Homo sapiens: one gene and its partners. Changing the gene in region 2 together with the main gene of any one other region gives a genetic interaction. Each region holds a gene or a part of one and is shown on either strand. Other genes may lie near its edges. The genes, in order: BAD, BOK, BNIP3L, BAK1 and BCL2L12.

Region 1 (3,335 bases), on a different chromosome or scaffold from region 2:
ACTCATCCTCCGGAGCTCGCGGCCATAGCGCTGTGCTGCCCAGAGGTTGGGGGGCGCCGAGCGCGAGCGGCCCCGAAAGGGGCTGGGCTCCTCCCCCATCCCTTCGTCGTCCTCCGTCCCCGCGGGGTAGGAGCTGTGGCGACTCCGGATCTCCACAGCCCCAGCGCCTGCAGAGGGTCAGTGGGTAGGGGGGCGACGTTAATCTCAGCTCCTCTAAGCCCCTGGCCCTGCCTGAACCCTCCCCATCAGCTCTGCAGGCCCACTCGTGGGTCTTCCAGGGGCGCATCACAGCCCACCTCTCAGAGCCCCAGTCCCTTGTATGTGAATCGAGGGGAAGCTCAGGGGCCTTTGGTGAAGATTTAGGTTAACTTCTCATTAATCCCACGAATCCTTACCGAGTGCCAATAATGGGTGAGGCCCTGTGCCTAGCACAAAATAAGGGCATAAGAAATACTAGTTACATCACAAGGTCAGGAGATCGAGACCATCCTGGCCAACATGGTGAAACCCTGTCTCTACTCAAAACACAAAAATTAGCTGGGCATAGTGGCACGTGCCTATAGTCCCAGTTACTCGGGAGGCTGAGGCAGAAGAATCGTTTGAACCCAGGAGGGAGAGGTCGCAGTGAGCCGAGATCACGCCACTGCACTCCAGCCTGGGCGACAGGCTTTTTTTCTCAAAAGAAAAAAAAAAAAAGCAAGAAGTATTATTAGTGCAAGACCTTCATGGGGCCTCCTGGCAACCCCTGGGTTGGTAGCTATTTCATAGTGTCTGTTCTACATCGGAGGAAGCCAATCCCTTGGATAGGAAAGTGTCCTGCCACAGCCGGCAGGATTGAATGCCTCCTCTGCAAGGGACCTGCAGAGCCCCTGGAGAACAAGAACTTGGCCGCTACATGTCCGCATCCCCCACAGAGCCTTCTCTGGAGACAGTGTCTGGAACTGTTGACGTTTTTAGGTACCATTGATGGTGCACTTACGTGTAGGCCGAGACATTCCCTTATTATCCTCCTAACCACCCTGGGAGGTGAGTACCAAACATGCTTAGGTGAGAAGACAGAAGCTTAGAGAGTTAAGACTTGCCCAGTTTCTGTGAAGCTGTGGAGGCCTGAGGCTGGAAGGTTCCAAAGGTTTGGTGGAATCCAGAGTCCAGTGATGATCAGCGGAGCTCTGTGTCTCTCCCCTTGTCTAGCCAGCCTTCGACTCTCTTAGCCTGTGTCCTCACCTTTATGAGGGGATAATCCTAGCCCTGACTCCCAGTGGCTGTGTGAACATCACATAAAATTAAAAAATGTGAAAGTGCTTTGTGGCTGGGCGTGATTCCTCACGCCTGTAATCCCAGCACTTTGGGAGGCTGAGGCAGGTGGATTGCTTGAGTTCAGGAGTTCGAGACCAGCCTAGGCAACATTGCAAAACCCCATCTCTATTAATTTAAAAAATTAATAAAAGAAGGCCAGACGTGGTGGCTCACGCCAGTAATCCCAGCACTTTGGGAGGCCAAGGCAGGTGGATCACCTGAGGTCAGAAGTTCGAGACCAGCCTGGCCTCAAACTCTGGTGAAACTCCGTCTCTACTAAAAATACAAAAATTAGTTAGGTGTGGTGGTTCACGCCTGTAGTCCCAGCCACTCAGGAGGCTGAAGCAGGAGAACTGCTTTAACCCAGTGGGTGGAGGTTGCAGTGAGCCGAGATTGTGCCACTGCACTCCAGCCTGGGTGGCAGAGCGAGACTCTGTCTCAAATAATAATAATAATAACAAAAGAAAAAAGAAAGTGCTTTGTAGGCTGCAAGTGCACTATGGGTTATTATTCAGAGGCCCGCCTACTATGGTCTATTTGAACTGTGCTCTGTGCCATCTCCCAACTCCTGCCAACTCCACTCCTCTACCCAGACCGATAAAGACTTAGAACCACTCCCCTGAGCAAACACTCAGAGTGCAATGACAGAGTGAGAAGCAGGTGGGGGGCTGGGCGCAGTGGCTCACGCCTGTAATCCCAGCACTTTGGGAGGCCGAGGTTGGGGAGATCACGAGGTCAGGAGTTTAAGACCAGACTGACCAAGATGGTAAAACCCCGTCTCTACTAAAAATACAAAAAAATTAGCCAGGCGCGGTGGCAGGCACCTGTAATCCCAGCTACTCGGGAGGCTGAAGCAGAAGAATCGCTTGAACCTGGGCAGCAGAGGTTACAGTGAGCCAAGATCACGCCACTGCACCCATCTCAAAAAAAAAAAAAAAAAAAAAAAAAGAGAGGCAGGTAGGGAAACATGCTGGGTGTTTATGGCAAGATATGTCTGTCAGGGAGGCTCTTTGGAGGAGGTAAATTACAGGCCAGGAACTGAAGGCGGGGGATAACCATTGGAATGTCTCTTCTCCCCTCAGAGGACCTGAGGACCTGGCCTGTGGGCCAGTGCAGGGCCTCCAGGGGTCCCAGCTAGGACACATAAATGAGACACATGACTAAGAAAGCAAGTAGGTGGCCGGGTGCGGTGGCTTACGCCTTTAATCCCAACACTTTGGGAGGCCGAGGCAGGCGCATCACGAGGTCAGGAGATCGAGACCATCCTAACACGGTGAAACCCCATCTGTACTAAAAGTACAAAAAATTAGCTGGGCATGGTGGCTGGCGCCTTAGTTCCAGCTACTCGGGAGGGTGAGGCAGGACAATGGCGTGAACCCGGGAGGCGGAGCTTGCAGTGAGCTGAGATCACGCCACTGCACTCCAGCCTGGGTGACAGAGTGAAACTCTACCTCGAGAAAAAAAAAAAAAGCAAGTAGGCGCAGTGGCTCACGCCAGTAATCCCAACACTTTGGGAGGCCAAGGCAGGTGGATCACTTGAGGCCAGGAGTTCGAGATCAGCCTGACCCAACATGGCAAAAACCCATCTCTACTAAAAATACAAAAAAAGGCCAGGTGTGGTGGCTCACGCCTGTAATCCCAGCACTTTGGGAGCCCAAGGCAGGTGGATCACGAGGTCAGGAGTTCGAGACCAGCCTGACCCACATGGTGAAACCCTGTCTCTACTAAAAACACAAAAATTAGCCAGGTGTGGTGGCGCGAGCCTGTAATCCCAGCTACTCAGGAGGCTGAGGCGGGAGAATCACTTGAACCCAGGAGGCAGAGGTTGCAGTGAGCCGAGATTGCACCACTGCACTCCAGCCTGGGTGGCAGAGTGAGACTCTGTCTCAAAAAAAAAAAGAAACTAGCCAGGCATGGTGGTGTGGGCCTGTAGTCCCAGCTACTAGGGAGGTTAAGGCACAAGAATCACTTGAACCTGGGAGGCGGAGGTTGCAGTGAGCTGAGATCTCACCATTGCACTCCAGTCTGGCAGTCTGGGA
Region 2 (4,167 bases):
AGCCCTGAGGTGCGGGCTGTGCAGCTTGCCTGCAGTGGAGGGGCTGGGCAGGGCGCACACCCTCAAGGGCGCCTGCTAAGAGGAGGAGAGGGAGGAAGACCGGGGGTCAGAGCGTGCAGGGATGGCTGGCGTGGGAGGGGCCTCAGGCAGGGAGGCAAGGATGTGTAAAGCACTTGGAGGCTGGAGGCTCGCCCTGTAGACAAAAGGGCCCAAGAGGACTGGGATGGACAAAGGTGAAGGGGGCTGGGGGTGCAACTGCCAGTGGGCCTGAGGGGCAGAAGGGGCGGCCCTGCCCTAGCTCCCTAGTCAGGTGGCTCTGGTTCAGGGAGGTTCAGAAACCCGTTGCAGGTCACGAGGCTCTTGGGCTTCAACCTGCGTGGCTCCCCTCGGGCAGGGCCGCCTCAGAGTAGCAGCAGGTGGGGGTGTGGGGGCTGCCACATGGCCAGAGCCGGGCCTGCGTGGGACAAGCCTGGGGCGCTGGGTGGGGTGGGGGATGCTGACCACAGGGGAGTGGGCTCCGGTTTTCCAGTGAAAACAAGACTTAAACTGAACTCTACACATAGCCCGGGCCACCTGGCCGGTGCCGCCCACATTCCCCGTCAGCTGTGTGCCCGCTCGTCCAGCCATCCCCTTCCCCTCAGCCCTCCCTGGCCCCCAGGTGCCCTCCCAGAACCAACCAGAGCCTTCCTAGGCACCGCCCCCACCTCAGGCCAGGCCCTGCTCAAGCAAGGCCGGGCGGGTAGGGGCATCCTGGCCCCATCCTCTCTCCCTGCCGAAGGGGGAGGCGCCCCACCTCTGGGCAGGCTGCTGCATTCTCAGAAATGACTGTTCCTTTTAAAGCCAGCCTGCAGCTCGTAAACCCAGCGGCCCCGAGACAGACACCCGGGTGGCCACCCACGCGCCGGCGTCGGCCAAGGGAGGGCTGAGAGTGGTCGTCAGCCCAGGATGCCTTCCACCCCTGGCTTCCTTCCGGGGCCCCACCCACTGCCTGCCCCGTGCCTGCCTGGGTCACCCTGGCGGCAGGAGGGGCGGGCACCAGCTTGCCAGCTCCTGCCACCATGCTTCCGCTGCCCACTGTGCCGTGAACCCTGCCCCCTGCCCACCCGGCCCCTGAGCCACACCACCTGCCCACTCCCCAGCCCCTACCCATATGCACCCCCAGCCGACTCAGGTCTGCCCCATGACACGCCTCAGCCTGGCCTGGGCCCGGCCCCCCACCCTCAGCTGCCACGTGGGGGCCTTGGAGCCAAACTGCCAATGAGGATTCATTTACGATCTCCCAAAGGAACACAGGAGCAGTGACAGAGTCCAGGCTCTGAGGCCACCCCAGGAGCGCCAGACAGGGAGTCTCGCCCGCACCCAGCTTGGTTCCGCCTCCTGACCCCACACCACAGCCTGAGGTCACTGCCCCTCCCCAGGTGTGGTCTGAGGCACTCCAGCACATGCTGTGGCAACAAGACAAGCCCGGAGGCAGGACCAGACCCCGCCTGGACTCCCATCCCTGGACTCAGCCTTCCCGCTCCAGCAGCCTGCCAGGTCGCCGCTGCATCCCAGCCACAGTAACTTCTGTCCAGGGAGGTCAGCAGTGAGCAAGCGTGGCACTGGAGAGGCCGGATTCTGTCAGAAAATGCTCGCAGCCCCCGCCGCCTTGGCCTCCAGCCGAGGGTGTCAGCCCCGCTCTGTCCCCATCTGGCTGGCCCACCAGGGGTCGGAGGAGACGTCTGGGAGAGGAGCTGGAGGACACCCCACAAAGGTGGGGTCTGCCTGAGCGAGAGGCAGTGGTCCTCACACTCCTGGCCTCTTCCCCTTGCCCTCCGGTGGGTGGAGGTCCCGAGGCCATCTGAAGACCCCTGGCTCTGAGGGTCACCCCGTGGCGTGGGATGCATCTCCCACAGCGAGGGTGTGGCTTCCTCTGGCGCCTGATGCCTGGCTCCTGCTGCTGTCAGGACTGCCTGGAGACAAGGCAGCTGAGGCCACAGAGATGACAGCAGGCCACAGTCACACAGCTGACTGGCCACGGACCCACACCAGCTCCCAGACAAGGGTGTGCAAGGCCTCCCTGCTGTCAGGGGTCTTCCAAAAAACTGCCCCAGGGGAACAGCATGCCCCTCCTCCAAGCTTCAGGGAATCCTGCGCACCCCGGGGTTCACTGGCCCAGAGCTGTGCCCAGCACCTGGACAGCACTTGGAAAACAGCTGAGGAATGTGCCAATCAGGGAGGTGCCACATCAGGGCCGGCGCACCACTCACCCCAACAGCAGCACCCAGCGCCTGCCACACCCAGGGGCAGCTCATAGCACGGGGTGCCAGGACAGGACCCAAGGTCACAGAGGTCAAAGGCAGGGGGCTGAGGTCTGCAGGGCCAGACCTGATGACATGGGGCAAGCGGACAGAAGCCACACTGGGCAAATCCAGGCCAAGGCAGCTGGACAAGTGGACAGCGGGCACCGAGTAGGGGAGACAAGCCCTAAGCCTCCCGTGGGCCTAGAAGCATGTGGACAGCCGGGAGCAGCAGGAGCAGGGAGGCAGGGCCAGGAGATGCCTCTCCAGGGCAGAGATGGGAGCGCACAGGAGGGTCACAGGTGAGGCAGGCACAGCCAGGTGAGATGCGCTGCTGTTCTCCGGATGCCCTCCGGGAGCCAGTCTGCTTGGACCCCCATGCTCTCCCCTCTCCTGGACGCTGGAGCCCTGAGGCTCGCTTCTGACCATCAGAATCCAGCAGAGTTACCCGTGACTTCTGAGGGTATATCCTAACAGCCTGGCAGCATCTACTCGGGAGCTGTCTGGGAAACCTGCTCCTTGCCACTCCTCCTTGGGACACAGCACCATGCTGTGAGAAGCCCAAGCCCCGCTCGGGGGCCCCTGCAGGAAACCAGGCAGCCCTAGGACGTGCCACCCCACAGGACTGCAGGTCACGCGGCCCCACGGATGCTGGACCACAACTACAACCAATCAAGAAGCCTGTGCCAGCTGCTCAGCATGCCCACCAGCCTGCAGAACCACAAGAGACCCTGAATGCTGTGGTTTGAGCCCACGCTGGTGGCTGGGCAGCTCCTGACACCTGCAGCAGTGAGATGGCACCGGTGGGCACTGGGCAGCGCCAGGATGGGTGGGGGCCAGCTCGTGGGGTCCCTGTGAGCCTGAGCCACAGACCCTGGATCCCTCCCTGAGGTCCCATGGGACGGGCAGGCTGGGCATACCTGCAGAGAAGATGTGGCCAGCCACGGCCAGGAACGCATCGGTCACCACAGGCTCAGACTGCAGGGAGATGTGCAGCTGACGCGCCACGTTGCGGTAGACGCTGGGCCGGATCATCTCCAGCTCATCGCCTGTGTGGTCACAAGAGCAGGTGAGAGGCAGCCCACGTCCCAGCTTCCTGGGACACGACTGGCTTGGGGCACACCCTGCACCTGACCCCCACCTGACCATGCTTGAATTCCAGCCTGTTCCTCACTTGTCTGATTCCCACCTCCACTTGACCCCATCTGACCTCCCTTGGGCCATCCCCCAACCTTGGCCCCTAGGGACCAGAAGACCAAGGAAGTACTGAAGGCGCCCCCAGTCCCGCCCCTCTGACGAGCCAGCCCCTAAGCCTAGCCGGCCAAGCCGGTGGGGCGGGAATCCTGCGAGAGCGTGGGCCGTGCCTGCTGGTGACTCACAGCCGACAGGCAGCCGAGCTGCCCAGAGCAGGAGGGACCAGGCAGACGGCCAGACCCCGACGTGGGGAGGGGCTGGGCAGAGAAAGCACTGGGGTGAGAGCAGGGGAGCCCGACGTGGGGAGGGGCTGGGCAGAGAAAGCATTGGGGTGAGAGCAGGGGACAGCCCGAGAGCCCGGCTCAGGCCCTAGCATGGCTCAGGGACCACTCAGATGCAGAGGCTGAGCCGCTGTCCTGGGCCACCCGCACTGCCACGCTCCCACCTGGGCTGGCTGGGCCGCTGTCCTGGGCCACCCGCACTGCCACGCTCCCACCTGGGCTGGCTGGGCCCCTGTCCTGGGCCACCCGCACTGCCACGCTCCCACCTGGGCTGGCTGGGCCGCTGTCCTGGGCCACCCGCACTGCCACGCTCCCACCTGGGCTGGCTGGGCCCCTGTCCTGGGCCACCCGCACTGCCACGCTCCCACCTGGGCTGGCTGGGCCGCTGTCCTGGGCCACCCGCACTGCCACGC
Region 3 (4,167 bases), on a different chromosome or scaffold from region 2:
CATTGTAGATTCTGGATATTAGCCCTTTGTCAGATGAGTAGGTTGCGAAAATTTTCTCCCATGTTGTAGGTTGCCTGTTCACTCTGATGGTAGTTTCTTTTGCTGTGTAGAAGCTCTTTAGTTTAATTAGATCCCATTTGTCAATTTTGGCTTTGGTTGCCATTGCTTTTGGTGTTTTGGACATGAAGTCCTTGCCCACGCCTATGTCCTGAATGGTAATGCCTAGGTTTTCTTCTAGGGTTTTTATGGTTTTAGGTCTAACGTTTAAATCTTTAATCCATCTTGAATTGATTTTTGTATAAGGTGTAAGGAAGGGATCCAGTTTCAGCTTTCTACATATGGCTAGCCAGTTTTCCCAGCACCATTTATTAAATAGGGAATCCTTTCCCCATTGCTTGTTTTTCTCAGGTTTGTCAAAGATCAGATAGTTGTAGGTAAGCGGCGTTATTTCTGAGGGCTCTGTTCTGTTCCATTGATCTATATCTATGTTTTGGTACCAGTACCATGCTGTTTTGGTTACTGTAGCCTTGTGGTATAGTTTGAAGTCAGGTAGTGTGATGCCTCCAGCTTTGTTCTTTTGGCTTAGGATTGACTTGGCGATGCAGGCTCTTTTTTGGTTCCATATGAACTTTAAAGTAGTTTTTTCCAATTCTGTGAAGAAAGTCATTGGTAGCTTGATGGGGATGGCACTGAATCTGTAAATTATCTTGGGCAGTATGGCCATTTTCACGATATTGATTCTTCCTACCCATGAGCATGGAATGTTCTTCCATTTCTTTGTATCCTCTTTTATTTCCTTGAGCAGTGGTTTGTAGTTCTCCTTGAAGAGGTCCTTCACATCCCTTGTAAGTTGGATTCCTAGGTATTTTATTCTCTTTGAAGCAATTGTGAATGGGAGTTCACTCATGATTTGGCTGTTTGTCTCTTGTTGGTGTATAGGAATGCTTGTGATTTTTGTACATTGATTTTGTATCCTGAGACTTTGCTGAAGTTGCTTATCAGCTTAAGGAGATTTTGGGCTGAGAAAATGGGGTTTTCTAGATAAACAATCATGTCATCTGCAAACAGGGACAATTTGACTTCCTCTTTTCCTAATTGAATACCCTTTATTTCCTTCTCCTGCCTGATTGCCCTGGCCAGAACTTCCAACACTATGTTGAATAGGAGCGGTGAGAGAGGGCATCCCTGTCTTGTGCCAGTTTTCAAAGGGAATGCTTCCAGTTTTTGCCCATTCAGTATGATATTGGCTGTGGGTTTGTCATAGATAGCTCTTATTATTTTGAAATACGTCCCATCAATACCTAATTTATTGAGAGTTTTTAGCATGAAGGGTTGTTGAATTTTGTCAAAGGCTTTTTCTGCATCTATTGAGATAATCATGTGGTTTTTGTCTTTGGCTCTGTTTATATGCTGGATTACATTTATTGATTTGTGTATATTGAACCAGCCTTGCATCCCAGGGATGAAGCCCACTTGATCATGGTGGATAAGCTTTTTGATGTGCTGCTGGATTCGGTTTGCCAGTATTTTATTGAGGATTTTTGCATCAATGTTCATCAAGGATATTGGTCTAAAATTCTCTTTTTTGGTTGTGTCTCTGCCCGGCTTTGGTATCAGAATGATGCTGGCCTCATAAAATGAGTTACAGAGGATTCCCTCTTTTTCTATTGATTGGAATAGTTTCAGAAGGAATGGTACCAGTTCCTCCTTGTACCTCTGGTAGAATTCGGCTGTGAATCCATCTGGTCCTGGACTCTTCTTGGTTGGTAAACTATTGATTATTGCCACAATTTCAGCTCCTGTTATTGGTCTATTCAGAGATTCAACTTCTTCCTGGTTTAGTCTTGGGAGAGTGTATGTGTCGAGGAATGTATCCATTTCTTCCAGATTTTCTAGTTTATTTGCGTAGAGGTGTTTGTAGTATCATTTTTTGTCTATTTGATTCTTCTCTCTTTTTTTCTTTATTAGTCTTGCTAGCGGTCTATCAATTTTGTTGATCCTTTCAAAAAACCAGCTCCTGGATTCATTGATTTTTTGAAGGGTTTTTTGTGTCTCTATTTCCTTCAGTTCTGCTCTGATTTTAGTTATTTCTTGCCTTCTGCTAGCTTTTGAATGTGTTTGCTCTTGCTTTTCTAGTTCTTTTAATTGTGATGCTAGGGTGTCAATTTTGGATCTTTCCTGCTTTCTCTTGTGGGCATTTAGTGCTATAAATTTCCCTCTACACACTGCTTTGAATGCGTCCCAGAGATTCTGGTATGTTGTGTCTTTGTTCTCGTTGGTTTCAAAGAACATCTTTATTTCTGCCTTCATTTCGTTATGTACCCAGTAGTCATTCAGGAGCAGGTTGTTCAGTTTCCATGTAGTTGAGCGGCTTTGAGTGAGATTCTTAATCCTGAGTTCTAGTTTGATTGCACTGTGGTCTGAGAGATAGTTTGTTATAATTTCTGTTCTTTTACATTTGCTGAGGAGAGCTTTACTTCCAACTATGTGGTCAATTTTGGAATAGGTGTGGTGTGGTGCTGAAAAAAATGTATATTCTGTTGATTTGGGGTGGAGAGTTCTGTAGACGTCTATTAGGTCTGCTTGGTGCAGAGCTGAGTTCAATTCCTGGGTATCCTTGTTGACTTTCTGTCTTGTTGATCTGTCTAATATTGACAGTGGGGTGTTAAAGTCTCCCATTATTAATGTGTGGGAGTCTAAGTCTCTTTGTAGGTCACTCAGGACTTGCTTTATGAATCTGGGTGCTCCTGTATTGGGTGCATATATATTTAGGATAGTTAGCTCCTCTTGTTGAATTGATCCCTTTACCATTATGTAATGGCCTTCTTTGTCTCTTTTGATCTTTGTTGGTTTAAAGTCTGTTTTATCAGAGACTAGGATTGCAACCCCTGCCTTTTTTTGTTTTCCATTTGCTTGGTAGATCTTCCTCCATCCTTTTATTTTGAGCCTATGTGTGTCTCTGCACGTGAGATGGGTTTCCTGAATACAGCACACTGATGGGTCTTGACTCTTTATCCAATTTGCCAGTCTGTGTCTTTTAATTGCAGAATTTAGTCCACTTACATTTAAAGTTAATATTGTTATGTGTGAATTTGATCCTGTCATTATGATGTTAGCTGGTGATTTTGCTCGTTAGTTGATGCAGTTTCTTCCTAGTCTCGATGGTCTTTACATTTTGGCATGATTTTGCAGCAGCTGGTACCGGTTGTTCCTTTCCATGTTTAGCGCTTCCTTCAGGAGCTCTTTTAGGGCAGGCCTGGTGGTGACAAAATCGGTCAGCATTTGCTTGTCTGTAAAGTATTTTATTTCTCCTTCACTTATGAAGCTTAGTTTGGCTGGATATGAAATTCTGGGTTGAAAATTCTTTTCTTTAAGAATGTTGAATATTGGCCCCCACTCTCTTCTGGCTTGTAGGGTTTCTGCCAAGAGATCCGCTGTTAGTCTGATGGGCTTCCCTTTGAGGGTAACCCGACCTTTCTCTCTGGCTGCCCTTAACATTTTTTCCTTCATTTCAACTTTGGTGAATCTGACAATTATGTGTCTTGGAGTTGCTCTTCTCGAGGAGTATCTTTGTGGCGTTCTCTGTATTTCCTGAATCTGAACGTTGGCCTGCCTTGCTAGATTGGGGAAGTTCTCCTGGATAATATCCTGCAGAGTGTTTTCCAACTTGGTTCCATTCTCCGCATCACTTTCAGGTACACCAATCAGACGTAGATTTGGTCTTTTCACATAGTCCCATATTTCTTGGAGGCTTTGCTCATTTCTTTTTATTCTTTTTTCTCTAAACTTCCCTTCTTGCTTCATTTCATTCATTTCATCTTCCATTGCTGATACCCTTTCTTCCAGTTGATCGCATCGGCTCCTGAGGCTTCTGCATTCTTCACGTAGTTCTCGAGCCTTGGTTTTCAGCTCCATCAGCTCCTTTAAGCACTTCTCTGTATTGGTTATTCTAGTTATACATTCTTCTAAATTTTTTTCAGTTTTCAACTTCTTTGCCTTTGGTTTGAATGTCCTCCCGTAGCTCACTCTAATTTGATCGTCTGAAGCCTTCTTCTCTCAGCTCGTCAAAATCATTCTCCATCCAGCTTTGTTCCGTTGCTGGTGAGGAACTGCGTTCCTTTGGAGGAGGAGAGGCGCTCTGTGTTTTAGAGTTTCCAGTTTTTCTGT
Region 4 (2,668 bases), on a different chromosome or scaffold from region 2:
AGAGGGCTGGGTCACGGGCGAGGGAGGCAGGAATTAGAGTGGGGCCTGGCTGCTGTATCCCTCCAGCGGGAGAAATAAGGAAGTAAGCTGGCCAATCACCCAGTCAGGTCTGCTCAACAGGGAACGCAATTATTGTGACTTGGGGAGGAAGTAAGATGGCTGCCCTCCTTCCCTCTTCCCAGGGGATAGCCAGGGAAGCCCCAGCTCACACCTCACGGCGGGCTGTTCCCTGGACTTGGGAATCAGGTCCCAGGTCTGTCACTATCTCCCTGTGTGACTTTTCTGGGCCGCAGCTACAAATTCAGATTTTGTTTCCCACATTTCCCTGCACGCAAAGGGCTGCGGAGCTGAGATGTACTAATGTAGACTCAGGACCCCAAATGCCCGGGACTGTCCCGGTTCCCCGGCTTGTTCTGGCTGTATGACCTTGCACACGTTACTCAGACACCCTGTGCCATTTTCCCCCTGCCAGCTGGGGATTGCCTGCTCCCAGGGCTACTGTGAGGACTCAATGCAAGTGCCGGAACAACTCTCCACACAGCATAAGCTCTAGGGGCGGCTAAGGTGCTGAAGTAGGGATATTTCTTTTCTTTTTTTTTTTTTTGTTTTTTTTGTTGTTGTTGTTTTGTTTTGTTTTGTTTTTTGAGATGGAGTCTCGCTCTATTGCCCAGGCTGGAGTGCAGTGGCGTGATCTAGGCTCACTGCAAGCTCCAACTCCCGGGTTCACGCCATTCTCCTGCCTCAGCCTCCCGAGTAGCTGGGACTACAGGCGCCTCCCACCACGCCTGGCTAATTTTTTGTATTTTGTTTAGTAGAGACGGGGTTTCACCATGTTAGCCAGGATGGTCTCAATCTCCTGACCTCGTGATCCGCCCGCCTTGGCCTCCCAAAGTGCTGGGATTACAGGCATGAGCCACCACACCCGGCCATTTTTTTTTTTTTTTTGAGACAGAGTTTCGCTCTTGTTGCCTAGGCTGGAGTGCAGTGGCACGATCTCCGCTCACCGCAACCTCCGCCTCCCGGGGTCAAGTAATTCTCCTGCCTCAGCCTCTTCTTGAGTAGGTGGGATTACAGGCATGTGCCACCACACCCGGCTAATTTTGTATTTTTAGTAGAGACAGAGTTTCTCCATGTTGGTCAGGCTGGTCTTGAACTCCCGACCTCAGGTGATCTGCCCACCTCGGCCTCCCAAAGTGCTGGGATTATAGGCGTGAGCCACCGCACCTGGTTGGGATATTTCTTTCCATGGGTGAGGACAGCTATGGCCTTAGGAAGAGTGAATCCCCTATAAGGCATGGGGCTGCCAGGGTTCGGCCCTCTCTCCCTGACTCCCAGCTTTGATCCTCAGAGGAGCAGGTAGCCCAGGACACAGAGGAGGTTTTCCGCAGCTACGTTTTTTACCGCCATCAGCAGGAACAGGAGGCTGAAGGGGTGGCTGCCCCTGCCGACCCAGAGATGGTCACCTTACCTCTGCAACCTAGCAGGTGAGCTACAACCGCTGGGCCCACAAGGACATCTTCAGGGAGGCAGTAGCTCGCATGGGTCTCTGTGCAGGTCCTGGGAGCTGGGGAGGCCTCGGGGGTCTTGCCCTTCTCTCATGGTTGCTCCTCTTTTATGTTGGGCTCCCACCCCCATCCAGGACCTTGTATCCTTTTTAGCCCATGCCTGCCCCTTCTCCTGGAGCCCAGCACTCATGTCTTAGAACACTGTCAGGGACCTCCAAGAAGGGATGCACAGGGCCATGGACAGCTCAGGCAGAACCCCTCTGCCATGAGCCAGGGCCTGGTCCCGACTGCCTGGTTACTGGCTCACCTGCATGCCTCCTGCTCCTACAGCACCATGGGGCAGGTGGGACGGCAGCTCGCCATCATCGGGGACGACATCAACCGACGCTATGACTCAGAGTTCCAGACCATGTTGCAGCACCTGCAGCCCACGGCAGAGAATGCCTATGAGTACTTCACCAAGATTGCCACCAGGTACCCCAGCCACCTCCCTGCCAGCTCCAGTCACTCCTCTGTCATGTCACAACCATACCATACCCTGCCTGCATGATGCTCTCCTGGCATGGGGAGAAGCCTTCTGTCAGTGTCCAATGTCTGCTGTGAACTCACATGTGGTCTCGGCCCCCTATTTTTCTCTTTCGGGGTCCCAGACTTGTATTTTGGGCATTAGCTCACAGCTCTTTTGAGCTCTGACTCCAAGGTCTTGACTGGTTAGATCAGGACTCTAGAGGGGGCCTGAGGTGGGGACGTCCCCCACAGCTCCCCAGCCCAGCTGGGACATAGCTGTCCTTCATAGTTCCAATTTGAAACCACATATCACACTGAAGATGGTGAGGGTGCTAACCTCTGCCAGGTCCTAGAAATGGCTCCTACTTGCTATAATCTGGCATCCAAGTGGTTAAAGACACCGAATATTTGGGTGCAAATCCAAGCTTTGCCACTTACTGCCTTCGTGAAGCTTCCTAGCCCTTAGTCTCCTGGTTTGTAAAATAGGGAAAATATGCTTAGATTAGTGTCCACCTTACAAAGTGTTAGCCATTGCTACCACCAGAGTTAGGGAAGTCAGTGTCGGAGTAGATTTGAAACTGGAGGTGAAGGTAGGAGTAAGTGATAGATTTTAGAATTAGTGCTCAGAGCTGAAATATCCAGTCCGTGAACTTAGA
Region 5 (3,409 bases), on a different chromosome or scaffold from region 2:
GGCCTCAGTTTACCCCATTATAAAATGGGAATCATGGCCAGGCTTGGTTGCTCACGCCTGTAATCCTAGCACTTTGGGAGGCTGAGGTGGGTGGATTGCCTGAGGTCAGCCTGGGCAACACGGTGAAACCCCATTTCTACTAAAATACAAAAAATTAGCCAGGTATGGCGGCGTGCGCCTGTAGTCCCAGCTACTCATGAGGCTGAGGCAGGAGAATTGCGAGACTCCGTTTCCCAAAATCAATACATAAATAAATAATAAATAAAATGGGAATCATTGCCACCTGCCAAGGTAGTTGGGGGAAGGAGAGAATCCGTAAGTTTCCAATGTCCTGGAAACCTGTCATTAACTCTTTTCACCCCAGGCCCAGCTACTCCAGACTTCTATGCTTTGGTGGCCCAGCGGCTGGAACAGCTGGTCCAAGAGCAGCTGAAATCTCCGCCCAGCCCAGGTGAGGCACAGAGGAGCCCCAGAGAAGGATGGCGGTGGGAGGATAGTCAGGGTTCTGCCCCCAGCCAAATTCTCTTCTGCCTCCAGAATTACAGGGTCCCCCATCGACAGAGAAGGAAGCCATACTGCGGAGGCTGGTGGCCCTGCTGGAGGAGGAGGCAGAAGTCATTAACCAGAAGGTGATGGGCATCTGTCCCACTCCTTGGCAAGGACAGGAGTTGCGGAATGGTGGGGCACTGGGATCAGAAGCTGGATCTGTATTTTCTTTGGATGGTCAGGTGGAAAGAGGCTGGGACAAGGTTTCAATGAAGGGTTGAGGCCGGGTGTGGTGGCTCACGCCTGTAATCCCAGCACTTTGGGAGGCCGAGTTGGGTGGATGACTTGAGGTCAGGAGTTCGAGACCAGCCTGGCCAACATGGTGAAACCCCATCTCTACTAAAAATACAAAAATCGGACAGGTGTGGTGGTGCGCTTCTGTAATCCCAGCTACTCAGAAGGCTGAGGCAGGAGAATCGCTTGAGCCCAGGAGGTGGAGGTTGCAGTGAGCCAAGATTGCGCCACTGCACTCCAGCCTGGGTGACAGAGTGAGACTCTGTCTTTAAAAAAAAAAAAAAAAAAGAATAGTTGAATGACAGGGGTATGGTTAGGGTAGTACTGTACCGTAAATTAGTTGTTTTAATTGATTGTTTAGAGGGGCATGGCCTAAATGCAGAGGGTGTGGCCATCAGAAACATTATCCACAAGAGACTGGCCAAGCTGGGGAAGTAAGTGAATGAATGTGGGGGTGGGGGGAGTGGCTAAAATCTTACTGAGCATAGAAGGGACCTGGCTTAGAATGTAGGGGAAAATGTACTACCAGAGGAGGTGTGGCTTGTGGCTGTGTCCTGGAATCTGATTGGCTTCGGAGCTTGGACAAGGTACATCGTCCTTTAATATTAATTGAATGGTAGAGGGCAAGATTGTTGTAGACACTAGGTTGGCCCCTGGGAAAGGTCACCAGGGGCATGGCTAGATTAACTCAGTTACAGTAGAGATTGGCCCTGATTGGCTGTTGAGGCAAGGGCCTGGCATGGCTTAGGGACTCACGTTCCAGGCCACTATCCCGGGGGTAGTTTGGCAGAGACCCTGGAGTCTGGCTTGATTGGCTAATATGGATGAGGGGTGGCCTAGAACCTTAGCATCTAGAACGATCCTGAACCGGGAAGCCACGCCTCCCGGCCCTCTATTGGCTGGCCCCGGGGGCGCTGCTGACGCGGACCCTGCCTCTTCCACCCTACAGCTGGCCTCGGACCCCGCCCTGCGCAGCAAGCTGGTCCGCCTGTCCTCCGACTCTTTCGCCCGCCTGGTGGAGCTGTTCTGTAGCCGGGATGACAGCTCTCGCCCAAGCCGAGCATGCCCCGGGCCCCCGCCTCCTTCCCCGGAGCCCCTGGCCCGCCTGGCCCTAGCCATGGAGCTGAGCCGGCGCGTGGCCGGGCTGGGGGGCACCCTGGCCGGACTCAGCGTGGAGCACGTGCACAGCTTCACGCCCTGGATCCAGGCCCACGGGGGCTGGGTGAGCCGCTGAAGCCTCTCTCTCCGGGCCTCACTTTACCTAACTGTCATGTGATAGAGGAGGGGCGGGGACTTCTTAGGTTCCTCTCAGACCTCAGGTATTCTCCCAGCTCCACTGCGTTCGTTCTGTTGAGCCCTTGCTGTATGCCAGGACTGCAGCGATGAGTGCAGACACTATGCCTGGCGTCAACGACTGGGTACGCTAATACTGTGAGCGTGAAACCAGTGACTGAGGTTACTCAGGGAGAGGCCGGACGGGGTAGCTCATGCCTGTAATCCCAGCACTTTTGGAGGCCAAGGCAGGAGAATTATTTGAGGCCAGGAGTTCAAGACCAGCCTGGACAACATAGTAAGACCCCATCTCTACAAAAATTGAAAATAACTAGCCAGGGTCGGGTGCGGTGGCTCACACCTGTAATCCCAGCACTTTGGGAGGCCGAGGCAGGTGGATCACCTGAGGTCAGGAGTTTGAGACCAGCTGGCCAACGTGGTGAAACCCTGTGTCTACTAAAAAAAATACATAAATTAGCCGGGCGCGGTGGCAGGTGCCTGTAATCCCAGCTACCGAGGAGACTGAGGCATGAGAATCGCTTGAACCTGGGAGGCAGAGATTGCAGTGAGCTGAGATCATGCCACTGCACTCCAGCCTGGGCGACAGAGTGAGACTGTGTCTCAACAAAATAATATAATAAAAACCTGGTGCGGTGGCTCACACCTGTAATCCCAGCACTTTGGGAGACTGAGGTGGGTGGATCACTTGAGGTCAGGAGTTTGAGACCAGCCTGACCATGGTGACATTCAGTCTCTACTAAAAATACAAAATTAGCCCGGCATGCCTGTAATCCCAGCTAGGGAGGCTGAGGCAAGAGAATTGCTTGAACCTGGGAGGCAGAGGTTGTAGTGAGCCGAGATTGCACCACTGCACTCCAGCCTGGGCAACAAGAGCGGGGCTCTGTCTCAAAAAATAAATAAATAAAAATTTTTAAAATTAATAATAATTAGCAAAGCATGGTAGCTCACACGTTTACTCCCAGCTACTCAGGAGGCAGAGGAGCCGGGAGGATCACTTGAGCCCAGGAGTTCAAGGCTGTGGTGAGCTATGATTGCGCCACTGTACTCCAGTGTGGGTGACAGAGTGGGACCCTGTCTCAAAAAATAAAATAGTGAGAGTAGTAGTGCTACCTCAAAGGGTCGCTCTGAGGGTTAAAATGGGGTCAATGTGGTAAGCCCTCTGTGCACTGCCTGGCATGCAGGCATTTTGTTGGTGAGGTTATATGGCTACCTGCTGCCTTTCCAACAGTGCCTGCCAGGATGCCCTCCCGGGGAACCCCCTGCCTCCGTCCTGCTCCTTCTGGTGGGCTCTGGTTTCACCCCCAACGAGGCCTTCCCAGGTCCCCATTGACAATCA

The links.
Region 1: changes in BOK (region 2) and BAD together harm fitness more than expected from each alone (negative genetic interaction), as found in Homo sapiens cells (one large-scale study listed by BioGRID).
Region 3: changes in BOK (region 2) and BNIP3L together harm fitness more than expected from each alone (negative genetic interaction), as found in Homo sapiens cells (one large-scale study listed by BioGRID).
Region 4: changes in BOK (region 2) and BAK1 together harm fitness more than expected from each alone (negative genetic interaction), as found in Homo sapiens cells (one large-scale study listed by BioGRID).
Region 5: changes in BOK (region 2) and BCL2L12 together harm fitness more than expected from each alone (negative genetic interaction), as found in Homo sapiens cells (one large-scale study listed by BioGRID).

The regions. Positions count from the first base shown.
Region 1 is NC_000011.10:64,271,637-64,274,971, forward strand, and holds part of BAD (bcl2-associated agonist of cell death), read right to left. Parts: intron 168-3,335; coding exon 1-167. UniProt on the Homo sapiens protein: Promotes cell death. Successfully competes for the binding to Bcl-X(L), Bcl-2 and Bcl-W, thereby affecting the level of heterodimerization of these proteins with BAX. Can reverse the death repressor activity of Bcl-X(L), but not that of Bcl-2.
Region 2 is NC_000002.12:241,561,509-241,565,675, reverse strand, and holds part of BOK (bcl-2-related ovarian killer protein), read right to left. Parts: intron 3,329-4,167; coding exon 3,200-3,328; intron 1-3,199.
Region 3 is NC_000008.11:26,396,533-26,400,699, reverse strand, and holds part of BNIP3L (BCL2/adenovirus E1B 19 kDa protein-interacting protein 3-like), read right to left. Parts: intron 1-4,167.
Region 4 is NC_000006.12:33,574,609-33,577,276, reverse strand, and holds part of BAK1 (bcl-2 homologous antagonist/killer), read left to right. Parts: intron 1-1,348; coding exon 1,349-1,484; intron 1,485-1,835; coding exon 1,836-1,979; intron 1,980-2,668. UniProt on the Homo sapiens protein: Plays a role in the mitochondrial apoptotic process. Upon arrival of cell death signals, promotes mitochondrial outer membrane (MOM) permeabilization by oligomerizing to form pores within the MOM.
Region 5 is NC_000019.10:49,668,487-49,671,895, forward strand, and holds part of BCL2L12 (bcl-2-like protein 12), read left to right. Parts: intron 1-364; coding exon 365-451; intron 452-537; coding exon 538-629; coding exon of another isoform or gene 630-678; intron 679-1,729; coding exon 1,730-2,002; intron 2,003-3,409.